Linked DNA regions of Homo sapiens. The protein of the gene in region 2 interacts with the protein of the main gene of each other region in a biochemical or structural test. Each region holds a gene or a part of one and is shown on either strand. Other genes may lie near its edges.

What was found.
Region 1: the proteins of INHBB (region 2) and ACVR2A form a complex in vitro, tested with the Homo sapiens proteins (one study listed by BioGRID).

What each region holds. Positions count from the first base shown.
Region 1 is NC_000002.12:147,917,430-147,922,675, reverse strand, and holds part of ACVR2A (activin receptor type-2A isoform 1 precursor), read right to left. Parts: intron 4,230-5,246; coding exon 4,084-4,229; intron 2,447-4,083; coding exon 2,332-2,446; intron 1-2,331. UniProt on the Homo sapiens protein: On ligand binding, forms a receptor complex consisting of two type II and two type I transmembrane serine/threonine kinases.
Region 2 is NC_000002.12:120,347,882-120,352,795, reverse strand, and holds the end of INHBB (inhibin beta B chain preproprotein), read right to left. Parts: intron 3,698-4,914; coding exon 2,922-3,697; 3' UTR 993-2,921; downstream 1-992. UniProt on the Homo sapiens protein: Inhibins and activins inhibit and activate, respectively, the secretion of follitropin by the pituitary gland.

The DNA.
Region 1 (5,246 bases), about 28 Mb from region 2:
TGTTTGAAATGTAGCTTTAAAAAAAAAACTTTTTTTGAGGTCTTTTCTCTGTATTAAAAAAACTAATAAAATGTTATAAAAAGAATTAGCTAAGTAAAGGACAGACTGATGTTAAAAAGTTCTATCTGTACAAAATCTATGTATTTGTTTATTCATAAATTCTTCTGTCTTGGAGTCCTTTATTTATAACTGTCCCCAACAATTTGGTATTTCTTAGTACTGTAACTATGGTTACTAAGCTAGTACAGCTAGCTTTGGTTGGTGCTTGACAACATTCATATATGAATGCTTAAAAATATTTGTGAGATAGCTGGGTACATCACAACATACTTGCGATGTATTCGAACTAGAGAGTAGTCTAGATATTGGTACGTCCATAACGCTCCATCCTTAGGTGGCTATAATCTCTACTCTAGACTAAAAGTTGGGCAATTTATGCAAATATACATGTAAAGATTTTTTTTAAGAATAAAGACAGATCACTAAGACTAAAGTTCAAGGAGAACACATTAAAGGGAAAAGTGGCTCTACTTTTAAAAAATTTACTACTCAGAATAATTATTTTAATTGTGCTATCAGTGAATGTTTCCCTAAAGCCTACTTTTCTCTTACAGGTAAATGTATGCCATCCAAGGTACCTACCTCTTTTATTGTAAGATTATGGTTTATTTACCATGTTGACATAAAATGTTCCCTCTTTTATATGTGTTCTTTGTACTATATAAAATGTGCAATAACATGCAAGTCCCTCCAAATATTTCTGAAATTTTCTGGTCCATGAAATCTAAAGTCAAGGAGTCATTACTGTAAGCCAATAATTTTTAACTAATCATAAAACCCAGTTGTGAAGGAGTTAAAAATATGACATGAATGAGTCAGAAATTTTTTTTCTCAAAAAATGAGGGAGGGCTTATGAGGTACCAAATTAAGAATATGTTCCCAGAATTTAGTCTTATGATAGTCTATCATTCAATTAGCTTAGAAGTTTGTCCTCAGGCTTCCTACACAATCTTGGTAGTATTCTCCACAAAATTGCCTCCATTCCCATACACATTTGCAGTCAACTTTTCTAGAGCTATATGGCTACTGACCATTACCCCAAACTACATTCTTAAATAGTTAGTCAATACTGCCAAAATTGGTGGTGCCATGACATTAAAAACGTGTCCTCAGGAACCAATAGGATATGCTGGGGAAAAGAAACCTAAGAATTAGTTGGCCAAATAATTTACATGATATGAAAGATGAAGAAATGATAATGTCGAAGGCCTGAACCATTTAGCTTTGTAGAAAATGTCACCTTTTAGGTTGAACTGGTTTCCCTGATTAAAAGGTGATCTTGGCTGGGCGTGGTGGCTCACGCCTATAATCCCAGCACTTTGGGAGGCCGAGGTGGGAGGATCACTTGAGGTCAGGAGCTCGATACAAGCCTGGCCAACTTGGTGAAACCCCATCTCCATTAAAAATACAAACATTAGGCTGGGCATGGTGGTGCATGTGTGTAATCCCAGCTACTCAGGAAGCTGAGCCAGGAGAATCACTTGAACTTGGAAGGCAGAGGCTGCAGTGAGCCAAGATCATGCCACTGCACTCCAGCCTGGGTGACAGAGCGAGACTCTGTCTCAAAAATAAATAAATAAATAAAAATAAAAGGTGATCTTGCAGGAATGAAAACATCTTTTCCAGCCTCAAAGTTTCTGAGAATAAACTGTATGGATAATGTTCTTTTCCCTTTTGGCCTTCCTAGAGGTTCCCATTACTAAGATTTCTGTGCATATGGATATATACAGAGGTGTGAAGAGTTACCTAATTCAGGGGTTTACAAGTGCTCTGAACTCTGGAGAGAATTTGGAGAAAAGCCATCAAGTTGATTAAAGAAATTAATGAAGCAATAAACAACAAGAAGCAATAAACTATTATTGCATGGGAAAATGGACAGGAAATCTTAATACACTGTAGTAAGGACAGTGACTAATTATTCTTCCACTCTTCTTAAGATGGTGAAAGAACTAACAGACTAAAACTACGGAGTTCATACGAAGAATTCCCTAAGAATGAGGTCTGTTAAAAGGTGGTGGATTATTCTTTGATCAATTTTTCAAAAAGAATCCTATGACGTGTGTCTAAGGGTTGCTTTACGAAGTGCTTGATCTAAACCACCTGAGTCCTCTACCATCATATGAAAATGTCTTCCTCAGAAACTTTGATAACTCTATTAGATGCTGATTTAAACACCACAACAATTTTAGACTAATTCAGTCCTGACATGCCATTCTAAGAAAATATGGAACAAGTTTATTTTTTCTTACATTTTATAATCATCATCCTTACCTGTCCATGGGTATCGCCTGCAGACTTGCCAGCCTCAAATTTTAAGGCCAACCCAAAGTCAGCAATGCAAGCTGTCAGGTTGTTTTTCAACAGCACATTTTTACTTTTGATGTCCCTTGCAAATAAAAAGAGTATTCAAATTAAGTTTAAACTAGTTACCTTTTTAAATTTTTTATTGAAAGCAGAAAAGGGGGAATATGTACACTATGAAAAAATAGTTACTTAAAATTATGAAATGCAGAGAAAGTGAGACAAACAAAGCTCAGAGCCCCATGCAGCCTTAAACACAAGAGCACGGTGACAAACCCCTATTCATAACATGGACAATAAGAAGGAATCCTACCTATAAAGCAGTTATATAAAAATCTGCCATACCAAAAAGATATGTTATCTATGTCACCCACCTACCAATCATAAAACTACTGTTAATATCTCAGAGTTCTGATTTGCAAACTCCCATAGAAACAGAAATTTTAAACCAAAATGAAGAAACTTTTAAAAAATAGCTGAATTGGGGCCTTCTGCTTATTGGTAGAGACCTACATTTTAGAATAATCCCTTATTATAGAGGTTCTTATATTCTTCCACCTGGTTGTAGAAAAGCATCTTATGGAATGAATAACAGAAACTTTTTACCATAAACATACACTGCTCTAGCTAGATCCTGGTGTTCTGAAAAGGGTAACAGTTTTAAGGCAGTAAGATATCCTCTTCTACACACCTGTCTCAACTGGCTCATCCTAGAGATTACTATACCCTAGTTAAATACATCTATGCCAATGACTAGTGGTTAAATTTATGTGCAGACATATAGACCAATAATGGGATACTGAAAGCACAAGCAGACACTCCCAAATGCTATAAAAGCTAATCGATCTTAGTTTCAAAAGACTTTCAGGCCCTTAATAACTTTGGGGGTCCTTAAGGATTAATTCCCTATGTGACCAGGTAGGGCAAGGGAAAATCGAAGACGAGGCCAATAGACTGCATGTAAGAAAGTGAGAAGAGTTATTTCTGAGGTAGACGTCATTTAAAGTTTGCAAAATCAGAACCTAAATTAGAGGCTGACTTACAATAATGCCTCCCAGCAACCTAAAACATCGCCTGGTGGCACTCAGCTAAGTATCTGTTCTGTGAATCAGTTAATGCCTACTTTTCAAACAACCATCTTTAAATGGAACACAAGACAACAAATTGAATCCCACGTTCAAGAAAATTAAATACATGGCAAACTGAATTCCATGTTTAAGACACAATCATTTTTCCTTTTGCGGGCATGACAACTGTTGGGTCTAAGTAGTATTTCTTCACTGGACAACTGTTTTAAGTGATGCCTCCCTTTAAGACTTGGCTCAGGGTACAGATAAGGTCATTCAAAAAACAAGCAAGGAAGACATTCAAAGTCTCTCCTTCATTACATGCCCTTGGATAATAATCCCTATTGATAAATCATGTTTTGAGGTAAAACAAATGTCTTTTTCCTTTGAGATCGAGAAAATATAGTTTATTTTCAATCATGCTTTCAGAAATGAGATGAAGTAGATCATTAAACTTTACCAATAATGTTAACATATACATTATCCAAAATACTTCCTGGCCAATCTCAAAGCTAATTTTAAAAAACAAATGAAAACTGACTGTCTTGTAAAGCATGATTGCATAACAAAGGAAAAATTAAAATTTACCCAGGGGCTTAAAAGTTTAGTAAATATATACTCAATTATCTGGGAAAACAATATAAATTTAGTCTACCTGTGAGATATGGCAGGTTTGTGGCCATCTTTTAGGCCAGGTATATCCTCATGTAAATATGCCAATCCTCTAGCCATGGTTTCTGCAATATGACACAGTTCATTCCAAGAGACCACATTAGCCTTAAGAAAGTCTGATAGTGAACCCTAAAAAAAGAGGGAAAAAAAGAAACTTATGTTCTTGACAAAGGCCATATGTATAAGGAGACTTTTCTTTTTACCTATAAGAGGTTGTGAGTTTCCCTTTCAGGGAAAAATAATATCCAAGAAACAATCTTTCTGGAATGGTTCAAATGGTTCAAATTTCCTTCCATTTCACATTAATAAACATTTGACCAGAAGGAAATACCAGAGCTTTAAACTTTTGTTACAAGAATAGTCAACTTCCACCAATCTATAAGACAAGTTTGTTTTTTTTTTTTTTTAAAGACTAGTTGAAAATCTAAGGTTCTAGAAAATATTTTAAAAGTTAAAATATCCTGACTATAGAGTTGTTATATCATGGGACTAGCAGAACACAAAATAACAACATAAAATAACAACTAATATGTAGAATATTCCTCTAGATTATTGTTGTCCTTTAGGTCAAGATAAGAGAAGTAAAAGAACCACTTACATTTCACAATGATGAAACCAATTACCAAAAACATAATTTCCTACTTCATTAATGGTACTTTCACACTGACTCTAAAAGTAGAAAAATTGAGGAAAACTAGCAATTACATTTTGGTGATAATTACCCTGCAAGTTAGTGACAGATCAAAGATCAGATAAATTTCCTGACTCTGGTTTTGTCACAAGCAAGACTGATTAAAACTTAAAAAAATGGTTCACGTAATCAAAATGAATTGTAAATGGTAAATGAAAATTACTAAGCATTACCTACACTAAAATAAATGTTTGTAAGAGTAATTACAGCACAAGAAATAAGGAACAAAAGGGTGGTTTATATGAGTAGAGTTTTAGGTTAAAAAGTTGCCATCTTTGCTCTTTTATTAAAATAAACTACCTTTTAAAACATTTTTATTCAAGAATGATTTTTATTTTCAGGTTAAATATTAATCAACTATAAGATGTCTCGAAAAATAACTCTGAGGGATTTATAGCCAGCATTAGGTAGGCAGGCCAACTCAGACTTTACTAAAGTAAAACGTTAAGTAGTTT
Region 2 (4,914 bases):
TCCCCTCGGGCTGAAAGCCTGGCAGGGCAGTAGCTCCCTTGGTTGGGCAAAGAATGGAAAAAGAAAAGGCTAGAAGGCTGCCTCCTGCCACCAGCTGGCTGTGCTGATTGAGCTATACCCCTCTAGCTGTCTGGGCCTCCCTCGGTTTCCCACTACCTTGATGAGGTTACATGCTCTCTAAAGTGCCATGTGCTCTGGGAAGACCACATGCTACCCAAACCCCAGGGCGGAGCCCCAGCAGCCCTGCAGGGCCTCAGACAAAGGCAAGGGCACAGGGCTGCAGTCCTCCAAGGAAACGGGTGGGCTCAAACACCAGGGTCCCTGTCCTGGATGTCTGACCTCAGGCAGGCTCTGAACTCTCTAAGCCTCAGATTTTCAAACTCTGGGAAATGCAGACAAAGCCACTTTCCACAAAGATGCGATGCTGCATGGTAACAGCAGGACTCGGCGGGTATCCCAGTTACACCTGCGCAGTGGGCCATTATTACTACACCGCCCCTACCACCACTCTCCACCGGGAAAACCCCCTCAGGAAGGGCTCCTTCGTACACTCACAGCCTGACTCTGTTTACCCTTCTATCCCAAGATACCAAGCCACTTCTAGGTCCCAGTCACCTCCAAATAGAGGTGAGCAGAGGTTAGCTGGACTTCAGCCTTCAGGGTTTTACATTTCCACCTGGGGACGGGGGCTTACCCAGCACTTGCAAATGGTAATGGATGTGGCCTTGGTGAAACATAATCAATCTTGGGACTAGCAGGATAAACAAATGTGTAATTCATGAATTTGCTAATTGTCCTTCATTTTGATCTTCAGCCATTTTTCCTGGAATCTCTGCCCGACATACATCTCATGGCAAGGACGCAGAGATGCCAGGAGCAGGCCGTGGAAGCTGCTGGCATCCAACCTGGACACCTGGACTGGCCTTCCTCCCAGCTGCCCACCTCCAGCCCAGGCCTCCCTGCCCCAGACATCACGCAAGGCAGGAGGCCCGTGGCACTCAATCTTTTATTTTCTTAAACTGTACACAAACGTACAATACTTTAACAGCAAGTCTATGGGAAAATTGTTTGGTTTTAAATTATTATGAAACAGAATCTAAGGGGAGCTTTATTAAATAAACATAAAGATGAGGATTTAAGGATACACACCTGCATTCTATCATAGTCATTTTTACTCTACCTTCTGGGTGTGTAAGGATGGAAAAGACACATCAAACCGAATAAACAAAATCCATTCATACCCTGAAACGTTGGCAGGCCACTCAAGGGACTGCTCAGAACGTCCACCTCATCTCAGATGGCCTCACCGTCTAATAAAATTAAAACTGATCTGTTGGCCTCTTTGGTTCCAAAATTATGTATAATACATTTAACTGTATTCTTTTTTTTTTTTTTTTGCTGCTATAAAAATAACTTTTTTTCAAATGGCAGTTTCTGACTAATCATGCAACTAAATCAGTGCAAACATTAAAAGCAATCATTCGCTTAAAAAAGAAGCAAAGGATTTCATTTCAAGTATAAAAAATATAAAAAGAGTCGTACGAGTCCAGTTTCGTCTAGTGTGGGTCAACCCTTTAAATTGCATAGTTCACGTGGCACTTGGACATCTAGAGGGCGAGCGAGTTCGGCGCTCGGCCAAGGGCCACTTCTGGACACACGCAGATCGGCAAGTGCTATGTCATGTGCGTTCAGGCAGGTCTGCAAGTGCTATGCGGGCGGGCGGGCAGGCGGGCAGGTGAGTGGGCAGGGGCCACGTCCACGGCCAGCCCTGATGGCTGGGGCCCACATGGGCAACTTCTGCAAATCAGCTGAAAGCCTTCCCCATCTCTCCAAGACCAACTAGGCTGCTCCCCTCCCTTGGCCTCCGCTGAGGGGACACCCCCCATCCTCAGCAGTTCAAGAATGCCTCCTCCCCGCCATTTCCTCCTGCGGTCTCATCCCCTTGCCTAGGGGTCATTCCCACCCGTCCCCAAACCAGTCCTAGAGGAATGTCCCCAATGAAGGGCACAGATTGCAACTTTTTTTCTTTCCATTTAGAACAATTCAGATTTTCACTTAAAAGGTCATACCTGGTAGAAAAGTCCTTTTTCAGTTATACAACTGGCAAGGATGACCTGTCAACTGTTGGAGATCAGTTAAAGCATCAAATTTAGCCCCCTCTTCTCTCCCTCCCTCCCCACCCCAAAAACACACACACACATAAGTCATGTCAGAGGCCCAAGCCACAAACAGTCAAACGGTCATTGCCCCTGCTCCCAGGTCTCTGACGGGTTGTGTCCTTTCTGGGTCTCTTTCCCTCGACAAGGGCATGGAAGGACAGGCTCCCCAGGCCTTGAAGCACGAAGGATCCCAGGCTGGGGAAGAAGCAGACATCGAGCCAGGCAGAGCAGGCCTGGTAAAAGCCACGGGGCACACGCAGCCTCCGCCGAGCTGCGCTCCCCACCCCTGCATCTGCTTTTCCTCTCCGTGGCTCTCTCTCTCTCTCTGCGTCTCTGTCTTTGTGCTTTTATGTGTGCTCGGAAGGCGCAATTCAGAGTGGCCGGGCCAGCTGGTGGGAATGGTGGCTGCTCACCCCATTCTCTCCGACTGACAGGCATTTGTAGCTAAGCTGCCATTTGTCACCGCATCCATTTGCTGGTATCCTGGAGGCTGCTGTGTGGGTGGCAGGATGCGTCTGGCTGTGCGTGGCTACGTGTGCATTTTAAAGTATTTCATGTCAGTTGAGGGTTCTCGCTCTGGTTTTGACTGGTTGCTCTATGAAGCTGTAGAAAAATATCTCAGGCCGCACCCTGGCACTATCTCCACAGCCCAACAGAATGACTGTACTCAGCCCACCGTGTACCCCCGTTCCCGCGGGGGCTGGAAGAAGCCCACCCGGGACTGCCCTCCGTGCCCCACCACCGTGCCCCTGCCTTGCACTGTCAGGCGCAGCCGCACTCCTCCACAATCATGTTGGGCACGTCCCGCTTGACGATGTTGTACTCATCATCGAAGTACAGCATGGACATGGTGCTCAGCTTGGTGGGAATGCAGCAGGAGTTCACCGTGCCGGGGTTCAGACCCCGCATGCGGTACTGGTTCACCACAGCCGTGTGGAAGGAGGAGGCAGAGCCGGGGACCCCTGCCAGGTAGGCTGGGCAGCTGCCCTCACAGTAGTTCCCGTAGTAGCCGGTGGGTGCTATGATCCAGTCGTTCCAGCCGATGAGGCGGAAGTCAATGAAGAACTGTTGCCTGCAACAGAGGTTGGTCCGGCCATCGCACTCCAGGCCTCGCTTGCGAATGCGGTGCCTGCTGTCGCCCAGCCGAGCCTGCACCACCACAAAGGGCCGGTGCGACTCTTCGCCTGGGTCCACGAACACCGGCACCACGGCCAGCTCCTGGCAGCTGTCACACTGCACGTCTAGGTTGAGTCGCCGCTCGCCCCGCTCAAACAAGGCCTGGATGGCCTCCGTGAGTGGGAAGGTATGCCAGCCGCTGCGCTTGAGGTCCACCCTCTTCTCCACCATGTTCCACCTGTCACCGTGGCCCTGCTCCTGGAAGTACACTTTGACCCGCACCTTCCGCCGGCTGCCCTTCTCCAGGACGTAGGGCAGGAGTTTCAGGTAAAGCCACAGGCTGGCCTGGACCACAAACAGGTTCTGGTTGCCTTCGTTGGAGATGAAGAAGTATAGGCGGACCCGGGAGGAGGCGAGGCCATCTGCGGAAAAGGGGAAGGGCGAGCCAAGTTAATTCAAGGAGAACACAAGGCAATGGGGGAAACACACTCTCTGCTGCAGGATGCTGGAATGCAACTCGCCACACAGCTGGAAAACGTTACTGACCAGAAATACCATTCTTGGGGCCAGGGCCTCTGACTGTAACCTGGGAGAGGCAGAGAAAATCGTTTCTCATTGAGAAACCCGGACCAGGCTGGGGCTGGAGGGTCCGCGCCTATAAAATCCTGCCTCACCTCTCCCAGGCCAGGGCTCCCTGGAGACAGGCTGTCAGGCCTCAAAGCACAACAGAAGAACTTGTCAGGGGGCCAAGATCTTAACAAGTTGTTATGGGTATCTGTGAAATCTGAAAAACAAAACCAGGATCGCAGGGAGGATTTTGGGGTGGGTGGTTTTAGTAGGGCTTTTTTTTTTTTTTTTTTTTTTGGTTAACTTAGCGCATTGCAAAATCAAGCTGAGCCACCTACCGCCTCTTTCCAGTGTTTACCTAAGTATGATGTGATCCAACCCCCAGTGGAACCTCCACTGCAAACAAGCAGGCTCTGCTCAGGTTTCTGACATAGGAACGTGTGCTTTGCAGGCTGCAGAGCCTAGCCCTTATAGAATAGTTTCAAGGGACAGGACATTCAGCCTTAAAACTTGAGGTCCAATCCTTTGACAAGACTCTGGCTCCCTGTTAATGGCACGTTCAAAATCCCCAAGGAGTAGGGGAGCTGGCTAGTTAATTTTCTCAATAATTCAGCTCAACAAGAAGGAGGCTGTGCCAATCAAGAGATGACTCCCCTCTCATCCTACATTCCGGTGACCCTTGCCTCTGACAATCTACGTTTTTCTTTCCTTTTTTTTTTTTTTTTTTTTTTCAGGAAGAACAAATAATGAAACTCTGTGGTCAGGGCTGGTTTTATCAAACCTCCCACCATGCCCCTCCCAAGCCCCTACCTCAGGCCTCGCCTGGCTCCTCTAATAACACTGACATCTGACTTTGAAATGGGGGAAACTGCAGCCTTAAAAGCTGGTCTTGGACGAGCTGCCTGTGACCTGAATCTGTTATTTATAAGTCAAAGAGCTGGCTCCGTGAAACGGACCAGAAATATAACAGCCCCCGCTGTCATTTTGTGCCACCGGGACCAAAAGGCCTCCTCGACCTTCCAGAATCACATTTCTAACTCTGGGCCCCAAAGCACCTTTTAATCCGAGCCCT